Regions from separate parts of the Homo sapiens genome. Here region 1 is linked to region 2. Evidence: fine-mapped expression QTL. Tissue or cell type: whole blood. Region 2 holds a variant in brackets; the other region holds the start of a gene. All regions are shown on one strand. Distances are between the middles of the regions. Region 1 holds the start of LSM8 (LSM8 homolog, U6 small nuclear RNA associated). Region 2 overlaps LOC102724495 (a long non-coding RNA gene).

Region 1 (5,397 bases), 85 kb before region 2:
ATAAGGTTAAAAATATTATTTTATTTTAAAAAACTGCTATTGTGATAGTTTTCCATAAACTATTCAGAGAAGCGCAAATTCAGTTTCCTAGGATTCTACTAGAAGTCTGATCCTTTAGGTTAAGGTTTTCTGCTCAAGATTTAGATTCAGAAGTAATGGAATAAAATTATCTATTACAAGCATACTTTGGTTGATACTTTATCAGTGATATAATGTCATTTAAATGAGCATTACTTTGAGAGGTTTCGACTTAAGGGGCAAGTTTCACTGTTAACTCTTAATTTTTTAGTAGTCAGATGTTTATGTGTATCAGTTTTCCCTTATTGGAGCTTTAATGTAATTCTTCTTTATGAGATGCTAAGGTTTCTACATTCATGTACTCCCAAGGGTACATGGCTAATATAGATAAATCACATATGTAATGTTTGCATCCAGATGTAATTCATTTTGTCTTAGTAAACCGACTTTTATTTATCCATAGGTTTTCTCGCTACATCTGTGATCCTTACAGACTACAGAAAATATAGCGATTTTAAGACACATGTAAAAAAGTTTCCAGCCAAAGAGATTTTGTGATGCTCCATAAACACTGTTCATCTGTTATTTATCTGGCATATTAATTTAATGACAACTACACAGGGCAATAGACTTACAAAAGCACACTCTAAGGGATGAAAAGCCATAGGGAGTATTCATTTTTTTTTTTTTTTTTTGAGATGGAGTATCGCTCTGTCGCCCAGGCTGGAATGCAGTGGCACAATCTTCGCTCACCGCAAACTTCACCTCCCAGGTTCTAGTGGTTCTCCTGCCTCTGCCTCCCTGGTATATGGGACTACAGGTGCCCGCCACCATGCTGGCTAATCTTTGTATTTTAGTAGAGAGGGGGTTTCACCACGTTGGCCAGGATGGTGTTGATCTCTTGACCTTGTGATCCACCCGCTTTGGCCTCCCAAAGTGCTGGGATTACAGATGTTAGCAACTGCACCCGGCCTCATTTTTATAAGATCACACAGAGGTTTTTTTGTTTGTTTGTTTTTGAAATGGAGTTTCGCTTTTGTCGCCCAGGCTGGAGTGGAATGGCGTGATCTCAGCTCACTGTAACCTCCGCCTCCCGGGTTGAAGCAATTCTCCTGCCTCACCCTCCAGAGTAGCTGGGGTTACAGGAACCCACCAACATGCCCAGCAATTTCTTTTTTTAACAAAACTCCTAACACCTCGTTAATCATTAATTAGTCTTTGGGTTTTGGTTCAACACCTAACATTTGCAAATCACACAATTATCTTTGTTCTTTCATTAGCGGAAGACACTTTCATTTGTTACCCTGAGAATATGAGACATTCACAATCTAATTCCTGACTACATTTGATTTCAAACAGATAGGAATAAGTTCCAGAATATAAAATATTAACTATTTGGGAGTATCTTGTGGGTATGCTCTAATTAAGAAATGCTTCCTTTTCCGAGGAAAACTGCTGACATTGCAAGAGTTATTACAAAGCCACAAATCTTAAGAAAATACATGTTTAACTGAAATTATAAAGATATTTTGCAAAAAAGGGAAATCGCTCCTGCTGGTGTTTTGTGTATAAATCTCTTTCTAACTTCAAGCTCTCTCAAGTTAGGGCAACAGTAAATGAAGTGGGAACAGTATCGCATTGGGAAATATCTGAAATGATACCTATGGGACTATCTAACGAAACTGAGGCCCAGAAGAATTGAAGTGACCTGTGCAATGACACCAATTTGTTAGCAGAGCCAAGATTAGAACCAAGTTTGGTGCCTTCCTGCATCCTTCCTGCATCGGTCCTTTCTCGGTGCTGCAGCAGCCTTTTACTTACTAATTTCACCCTGAAGAAAGGTAGACCATCCTGGCGTGGCAGAAGCGTGGACATTCGTTTTCTAAGGGATGGTCACACACCTTTGCCTATTTGCATTTAGTTTCTTTAAAAAGTAAAAACACCTCCATTTTGGAACACTTTTAGAGACAAAAGCAGAACATACGAAAGTGTATTTCACTGCTGAGTTCTTAAGAGGCGTACACCGTGTGGTTATAACGTGCGCAACTCTGTCCCGGGCAACTGAACTTATTTTTAGCGTTATTTTCGGCTTCTGCTGCAGAAAACTAGGGATTCAACTACCCGCACCTACGTTTCACACAACAGCACTCGTCTCTCTCCTTCACTCCTAATAAAAACACCTTACTTCGTTTATTCCTGCCTGCTCTACCTCGTCTCAACATTTTCTCTTGTTAACTTCCACCACACTGCCTTTTACTCGGATTGGAAACCCACTCTCCCCCAACTTCTGTCTCATACCCCCAACTTCTGTCTCATACCCCCAACTTCAGGAAGCGTCTTCCTTTTTTCCGCCTCTCGTTCGCTTTTGTCTTACGAGGCTTCCGGAACACGGCCCAGAATTACAGAGAAAACACACTGCGCACGCGCACTCTCTCGTCACCGCTGTGCGGCTTCTGTTTGGTTGGCCAGTTCGTCCCAATTTCCGACTCACAGGGCTGCGGAGCAGCAACTCTCACGATATTTGCTGCGACCCGCAGGCGCTATCCGCTGCCGGGTTCTGGCGCGCCCTTTCAGTTCTGCTTGCTGTCGGCACCGCTGCGTTACCCGGAACCGCCGGGCCGAACAGCATGACGTCCGCTTTGGAGAACTACATCAACCGTATCCTCAAGCTGGCCGCCGCGGGCGTGAGCCGGGGTCGCGGAGAGGCCGCGGTCGGGGATCGGTGGGAGGTTGGGAGGCCTGGCCTCGGCGGGATCCTGGGGGCGGGCGAGGAGATGAGGGCCCCGGAACGACCCAGAGTTCGCCGGCGGCGCCTCGAGCCTTCCCGCTGCTGCGGGCCCAGGGGTCCTTTCCATTTTGCCTGCAAAACCCAAATAAAAACCCAGTGTGATTATTCCGAACTTTTCTGTCTTAAAAAAAATGTACGCTCTTGATTCTTACTTACTATTTCCCTATGGCATAAGTGTTAAAGTTTGTGAATAAGATGAACAGTCGTCCTGGCGGCGACAACAGTTTTGCAAATCTTTGTACTTGTTTTATTCACATAATTTGCTCGTTCGAGGATAGCAAAAAGTTTAACGATGGTTCACAGACTGTTTCTGTCCCTTTACCACTTGAAGTCCCAACTTGTTGGTAGAATGAAAAAAAATGGTTGCTGTTGTAATGGATTATAGTGAGGAGCAAGTAACAACCCCATGGGAAGTCTTAAAATAGACTTTACAAGTGTTACCGTTTTAAAGTCTTAGGACAAAAACACTACGTTAAGCTCAGGTACAAACTGGGTGACAAAAATTAAATACCGAATGCTTTTAATGATGCGTTATTGGTACCCTGTGACACTGCTTATATAGTTTCTTTACTTTTGAATTACAGAAGCCTGTCCTGGAAGACAGTTTTTTAACATGCTGGAAAATCGTCCAACATCGATTAATTTAGTACTCATCCACTTTTCATTTTAGAAATAAACAGGCCTAAGAAACGAAATATCCTGCCTGAAATAATAGATTGGTAACCTTCCTAGTAGAAAAGTGTCAAAAATCCAGGATATTTTGAGATAAGATACACCGATCACATACAGAAAGAGGTTTTCTTTTTCTATTTTTTCCCTTTTTTAATCATGTAATTATCACAAAGACAAAAACAGAAGCTTTTTTTAAGTTTTTTTTTTTTTTTCTTTTTTTGAGTCGAGGGTCTCACTCTGTTGCCCAGGCTGGAGTGCAGTGGCTTGATCATGGCTCAATGCAACCTTGAACTCCTGAGCCCAAGCAATCCTCCTGCCTCTGCCTCTGCCTCCTGAGTAGCTGGGACTATAGGTCACCAGGCCAGGGTAATAGAGATGGGGGTATCGCTGTGTTGCCCAAGCTGGTCTCACCTCAAGTGATCCTCCTGCCTTGGCGTCTAAGAAACTTTTAACGTTTTTATGTAGTGAACTTAGTGGCTGTGTTGAATACTTATACCTAGTTGTCATATTTATTCTAAAAATTCAAATCATTCCCTTGCCAGAGTCTGTTTTCAATTTGCATTCCCTAAGAAACACTTTCTTTGATTCAGTTATCAGGAACTGTTGCCGTTATTACATCAGATGGGAGAATGATTGTGGTAAGTCTTTGGAATTTTCATTCTCTGCTTTCCTGTAGGTTTATTGGTTGCAAGTTTTATGTGAAACCTCTAATCTCTAATGCCTAGACAGCACATTACACCCGTAGTGCAATTTTATTATAATTCAGCTCTTTATCACTTTGCTGTCAATCCATGTTTTCCTCACTAATAAACATTGTGTGTTACCTACAAGGTTTCTCGGAGCTAGAATAATAGATTCTGCCCTCAGAGAGCTCCTAGTCTGTAGACCTTTATTAAACTTACTTTTCTTCTTCCATTTTTATTTCCTTCCCCATTCAGCACCACATGAATCAGAATTTTTTTGAAATTTTGCATATGCTTAGTAACTTTTTAATGATTTAGATACTATTAATATCTAGATAACATTTAAGGCTTGTATACAATCTTAATATTCTTTGTTTTTAGGTTGTGTGACATGTCTTCTGTAGGACACATTATGATGATTGACTCTCTATATATACACATATATATGTAAAATTGGCTTGTTCCTTGAAGTTGTTTCTCCCTTGCTAATTTATGTCATATAACTAAGATAAAACGTTCCTATAGTGATACTTGTATTTGGAATTTGATCTGAGGAATTCATCTCAAGATTTTTGGGTACTTGGTTATTTCTTCACTTACAATTCATACTTTGAATGCTTTCAAAAGAATTTTAAGGCTACTGAACTTTCTCTATTTTCTAACCTTACCTAGTTTCTTTAAATAATTTGATCCCTTATTTTTCCATTCTTCAGTTTTGCTTTTGTTCATTTTCTTTTTAAGCCTTGTGATTTTTTTTCACTGGGTCCTTAGTGACTATTATTAGTCAAAGTTCTAGCTTTGTCCTTTACTAAATTTATATCATGTGCCAGGTGCATATATGTTACATTATTTAATGTACAGTAAAAACTTATGAAGAATAAGTACCCCTGTATTCTAGATTAGGAAACAAGTTCAGAGAAGGTGACTCACTTTCTCAGAGTCACAAGGGTAGCAAGTGACAGAACCAAACTGGGATTTAAATTTGGTTTGACATCAAAGCCAAGGCCAGTTGCCTGGCTTCTTTCTTAAGGAAGCAATGATGTTTGCTTAGGCACCTCACATTGTATTTTTTCAAATATGGACAGTTTGACATATTTTAATTTCAACACTTCAGGAAGCCTATTGCTGTTAATAGATATTTGCATTTTTTTTTAATTTGGTGAAAACCTTAAGTTTAAATTTTCTTATTTTTGTTGACAGGGTAGATAATAAACTGAGAAATTATTTTTAATTTTA
Region 2 (5,397 bases):
TGTGGTGAATGAAAAAAACTATACATACATATATATGTATGTATATATACACATACATATATACATACATATACATATGTATATATATACATACATATACATATGTATATATATACATACATATACACATATATATACATACATATACATATGTATATATATACATACATATATACATATATACAGATATGGTATATGTATGGTATATGTATGTATGGTATATACATATATACACATATATACATATGTATGTATATACATACATATACATATGTATATATATACATACATATACATATGTATATATATACATACATATATATGTATATATATACACACACACACACACACATATATATATATATGTAAACATTCATTTTGGACCTGATAACATTTTTTTTTTCCTTTTACCAGCCAATAAATCTTAGAGTTTTTTTCTTGTTGTGGAGATTTATAGGTGGATTCATTTTCCAGAGCTTAAGCTTCCTCCATTCTATCAATGATATTTTCCTCAAAGTGCCTTTGATAGCTTAAATAGCCTTGAGAAGAAAGTTTATAAATTAAGTATAAGATTAATAAGTATATTTACTTCGTTCTTTTGGGGCTGATGCAATTTCACTGCAGATTTTTAAAGCAGTGTGCAGCATTTCATATCATTAGGAAGTGGAATGGGTATATAACATTAAATTCAATAATGTCCTGGTAAGTAGTGCTTATATTCGAATACTTAAAGCATGCATATTGTTAACTAGAGTTTCATATTTATTTTAAGGTAATATTTGTATACAATGAAATGCCCATATCTTAAGAAAAATAAATGTAGAGACCCTATATAAAAATGTAAGAAATTCACTTAGGACTCACTGACATGTCCAAACATGAAATCCTAGAGTTGAAAGAGATTATTAGAAGTCCACAAGGTCAAATATTGTAACTCACAACAAAAATCTTTCCCATGGGCATGGTGTTCCCTGGAATGGCATTTTATAAGAAACACTGAGGAATGATGAGGAATCTGTAGTTATCAAAGGGCTAGTATTCTCTCCTAGGTAAATATCTTTACAACTCTGTTGCTCAAGTGTTAGTATCTTCATTTTATAGAATAGAAAACCACAGCTGAGGAAGGCAAAGTAACTTGCATATAAAATTACAGATGGAAGGTAGTTGAGTTGGCACTGAAACCTAAGTTCTTCTAAATTTATGACCAAATCCCCATCACCTTTAAAATGTCATACTGAAACATTTTAAAATCACGTAAAAATCACATTTTCTGTAAGTGCCTTTTTTATCTCATTATTTTTGAAAAAAATTTTCAAACATTAAGAAAATTTGAATGAATTTATATTTACCCTCTACCTAGGCTTTTCTATTCTATATATTGCATTATCACATACTTACCCATCTATACAGCCCTATATCCACCCATCAGTCCTTTCTATTAATGCATTTCAAAGTAAGTTACAAACATCAGTATTTCCTCTCAACTAATTTCTCTCAAATATTTAAGAGCACATATTAACTAGACTTTTATATTTACGTTTATATATTTTAAGGTGAGATTTATATAAAACGAAATGTCCAAATCTTAAGTATACTATGAGATGAGTACGCACAAATACATGTAACTGTGTAACTCAAAACCCTATCAAGATACAGAACTTTGCTCAGAAGGATTCCTTCATTTGCTTTCCCATTCAATCCCCCTTCTCCACCAATTTTTTTTTTTTTTTTCTGGCTGGAGTAGTTTTGCCTTTTCTAGGATTTTACATAAATTGAATTGTGGTATTTACTGTTTTGGGTAAAGCTACTTTCACTCCACATACTGCTTTGAGATTCATCAATGTTGTATGTGTTAATACTTATTTTCTTTGTCTTGTTGAATAGTATTGCACTATAGAATTTACCACATTTTATCTGTTCTCCGATTAAGATCTGAGAAGTTTCTAGTTTTCAGGTATAATGAATAAACTGCTATGATCGTATCTGTTCAAGGCTGTTTTGATTTTTAAATAAGAAACTGTGTGTTTTTACCTTTTTATATTCCTACCAACCATGTATGAAAATTTCAGTTGCTCCACATCCTCACCATCAGTTAGTATTGTCTATATTTTTAATTTTAGCCGTTCTTGTGTTTTTTTTCGTGTAGAGGTTTGTTCTTGTAGAGGCTTCCAATAGTGGTTCTACTTGTATTTCCCTGATGACTAATGGTAGTGATCACTTTTTCATCCACTCATTGGCCATTTATATGTTTTCTTTTGTGAGCTATTTATATATTTTATGTTTTTATGTATTTACTTTCATTATTGTGCTATGAGAATTCTTTATATATCCTATATATTAGCCCTTTGTCATATTTTCATTTTGCAAATAAATTCTTCTAATCTGGAGTTTAACTATGTATTTATTTATTTACTTTGCTTCAACTTTTATTTTAATTTCCAGGGTACAGGCGCAGGATATGCAGGTTTGTTACCTAGGTAAACGTGTGCCATGGTGGTTTGCTGCACAGATCAACCCATCACCTAGATATTAAGCCCAGCCTCCATTAGATATTCTTCCTGATGTTCTCCCTTTCCCTGCAGCCCCCAACAGGCCCCAGTGTGTGTTGTTTCCTACCATGTGTCCATGTATTCTCATTGTTCAGCTCCCACTTATAAGTGAGAACATTTAGTGTTTGGTTTTCCATTCCTGTGCTAGTTTGCTGAGGATAATGGCCTCCGGCTCCACCCATGTCCCTGCAAAGGACATGATCTCATTCCTTTTTATGAATGCATAATATTGATGGTGTATACTTACCACATTTTCTTTATCTGGTCTGTCACTGATGGACATTTGGGTTGATTTCATGTCTTTGCTATTGTGAAGAGTGCTGCAATGAACATACATATACATGTATCTTTATAATAGAATGATTTATGTTCCTTTGGGTATATACCCAGTAATGGGATTGCTGGGTCAAATATATTTCTGCTTCTAGATCTTTGATGAATCGCCACTCCATCTTCCACGATGGTTGAACTAATTTATATTCCCACCAACAGTGCAAAAGTGTACCTTTTTCTATACATCCTTGCCAGCATTTGTTGTTTCTTGATTTTTTACTAATCACCATTCTGACTGGTATGAGATGGTATCTCATTGTGGTTTTGATTTACATTTCTC[C/T]GATGATCAGTGATGTTGAGCTGTTTTCCATATGATTATTGGCCGTGTGAATGTCTTCTCTTGAGAAGTGTCTGTTCATGTCCTTTGCCCACTTTTTAATGATTTTTTTTTCTTGTAAATTTATTTAAGTTCCTTGTAGACTCTGGATATTAGACCTTTTTTAGATGGATAGGTTGCAAAAGTTTTCTTCCATTTTGTAAATTGTCTGTTCACTTTGATGATAACTTCTTTTGAGATGCAGAAACTCTTTAGTTTAATTAGATTCCATTTGTCAATTTTAGCTTTTGTTGCCATTGCTTTTGGCGTTTTCGTTGTGAAGTCTTTGTCCATGCCTACGTCCTGAATGGTATTGCCTAGGTTTTCTTCTAGGGTTTTTATAATTTTGGGTTTTACATATAAGTCTTTAATCAATCTTGAGTTAATTTTTGTATCAGGTGTAAGGAAGGGGTCCAGTTTCAACTTTTTGCATATGGCTAGCCAGTTTTCCCAACACCATTTATTAAATAGGAAATCCTTTTCCCATTGCTTGTTTTTGTCAGGTTTGTCAAAGATCAGATGGTTGCAGCTGTGTGCTCTTATTTTTGGGTTCTCTATTCTGTTCCATTGGTCAATGTGTTTTTGTACTGATACCATGCTGCTTTGGTTACTGTAGCCTTGTAGTATAATGTGAAGTCAGGTAGTGTGATGCCTGCAGCTTTGTTCTTTTTGCTTTGGATTCTCTTGGCTATATGAGCTCTTTTTTGGTTCTATATGAATTTTAAAATACTTTTTTTCCAGTTCAGAAGAATGTCAATAGTAGTTTAATGGTAATAGCATTGAATCTATAAATTACTTTGGGCAGTATGGCCATTTTCACGATATTGATTCTTCCTATCCATGAGCATGGAATGCTTTTCCATTTGATTGTGTCTGTCTTCTTTGAATTTTTTCAGCAGTGGTTTCTAGTTCTTCTTGAAGAGGTCTTTCACTTTTTTGTTAGCTCTATTACTAGGTATTTTATTCTCTTTGTAGCAGTTGTGAATGGGAGTTTGTTCATGATTTGCCTCTCTGCTTATCTGTTGCTGGTGTATAGGAATACTAACAAATTTTGCACATTGATCTTGTATCCTAAAACTTTGCTGAAGTTGCTTATCAGCTTAAGTAGCTTTTGGGTGGAGGCATAGTAGCCTTGAATAATCTTTTACATTTCTGTGGTGTCAGTTGTAATATCTCCCGTTTCATTTGTAATTGAGCTTATTTGGATTTTCTCTTCTTTTCTTGGTTAATCTTGCTATTGGTCCATCAATTTTATTTATCTTTTCAAAGAACAAAAAGCTTTTTGTTTCATTTATCTTTTGTATTTTCTTTTTGGTTTCAATTTTATTTAGTTCTGCTCCAATCTTGGTTAGTTCCTTTCTTCTGCTAGGTTTGGGTTTGGTTTGTTCTTGTTTCTCTCGTTCCTTGAGTTATGACGTTAGATTGTCTATATGTGCTTCCTCAGACTTTTTGGTGTAGGTATTTACCGCTATGAACTTTCCTCTTAGCATCGCCTTTGCTGTATTCCAGAGGTTTAGATAGGTTGTTCACTATAGTCGTTCAGTTCAAAGAATTTTTCAATTTCCATCTTGATTTCATTGTTGACCAAATGGTCATTCAGGAGCAGGTTATTTAATTTCCATATATTTGCATGGTTTTGAAGATTCCTTTTGGAATTGATTTCCAGTTTTATTTCAATGTGGTCTGAGAGAGTACTTGATATAATTTCAATTTTCTTAAATTTATTGAGACTTGTCTTGTGGCCTATCATTGGTCTATCTTTGAGAACATTCCATGTGCTAATGAATACAATGTATATCCTGCAGTTGTTGGGTAGAATGTTTTGTAAACATCTGTTAAGTTCATTTGTTCTGGGATGTAGTTTATACCCATTGTTTCTTTGTTGAATTTCTGTCTTGATGATCTGCCTAGTGCTATCAGTGGAGTATTGAAGTTCCCCACTATTACTCTGTTGCTATCTCATTAGGTTTGAGTAATTGTTTTATAAATTGGGGAGCTCCAGTGTTAGGCGCATATATACTAAAAATTGGAATATTTTCCTGTTGGACAGGCCCTTTGTCATTATATAATGTCCCTCTTTGTCTTTTTTAACTGCTGTTGCTTTAAAATTTGTTTTGTCTGATATAAGAATAGCTGTTCCTCCTGGCCTTTGGTGTCCATTTACATGGAATATCTTTTTCTGCCCCTTTACCTGAAGTT

What was found.
Region 1: LSM8 starts here. The variant in region 2 is fine-mapped to the expression of LSM8 in whole blood (TOPMed, PIP 0.99).

The regions. Positions count from the first base shown.
Region 1 is chr7:118,181,579-118,186,975 of GRCh38, forward strand. LSM8 (LSM8 homolog, U6 small nuclear RNA associated) reads left to right here and starts at 2,586. Exons shown (of 4, transcript NM_016200.5): 1 at 2,586-2,676; 2 at 4,076-4,116. The coding sequence starts at 2,646. LOC105375470 (a long non-coding RNA gene) reads right to left here and starts at 2,390. Exons shown (of 4, transcript XR_927904.3): 1 at 2,337-2,390.
Region 2 is chr7:118,266,451-118,271,847 of GRCh38, forward strand. The region is part of intron 1 of LOC102724495 (a long non-coding RNA gene); the gene reads left to right. Among named protein-coding and RNA genes, the nearest start is that of ANKRD7, 44 kb to the left of the region's middle. The variant C/T (reference allele first, on the strand shown) is at 3,163.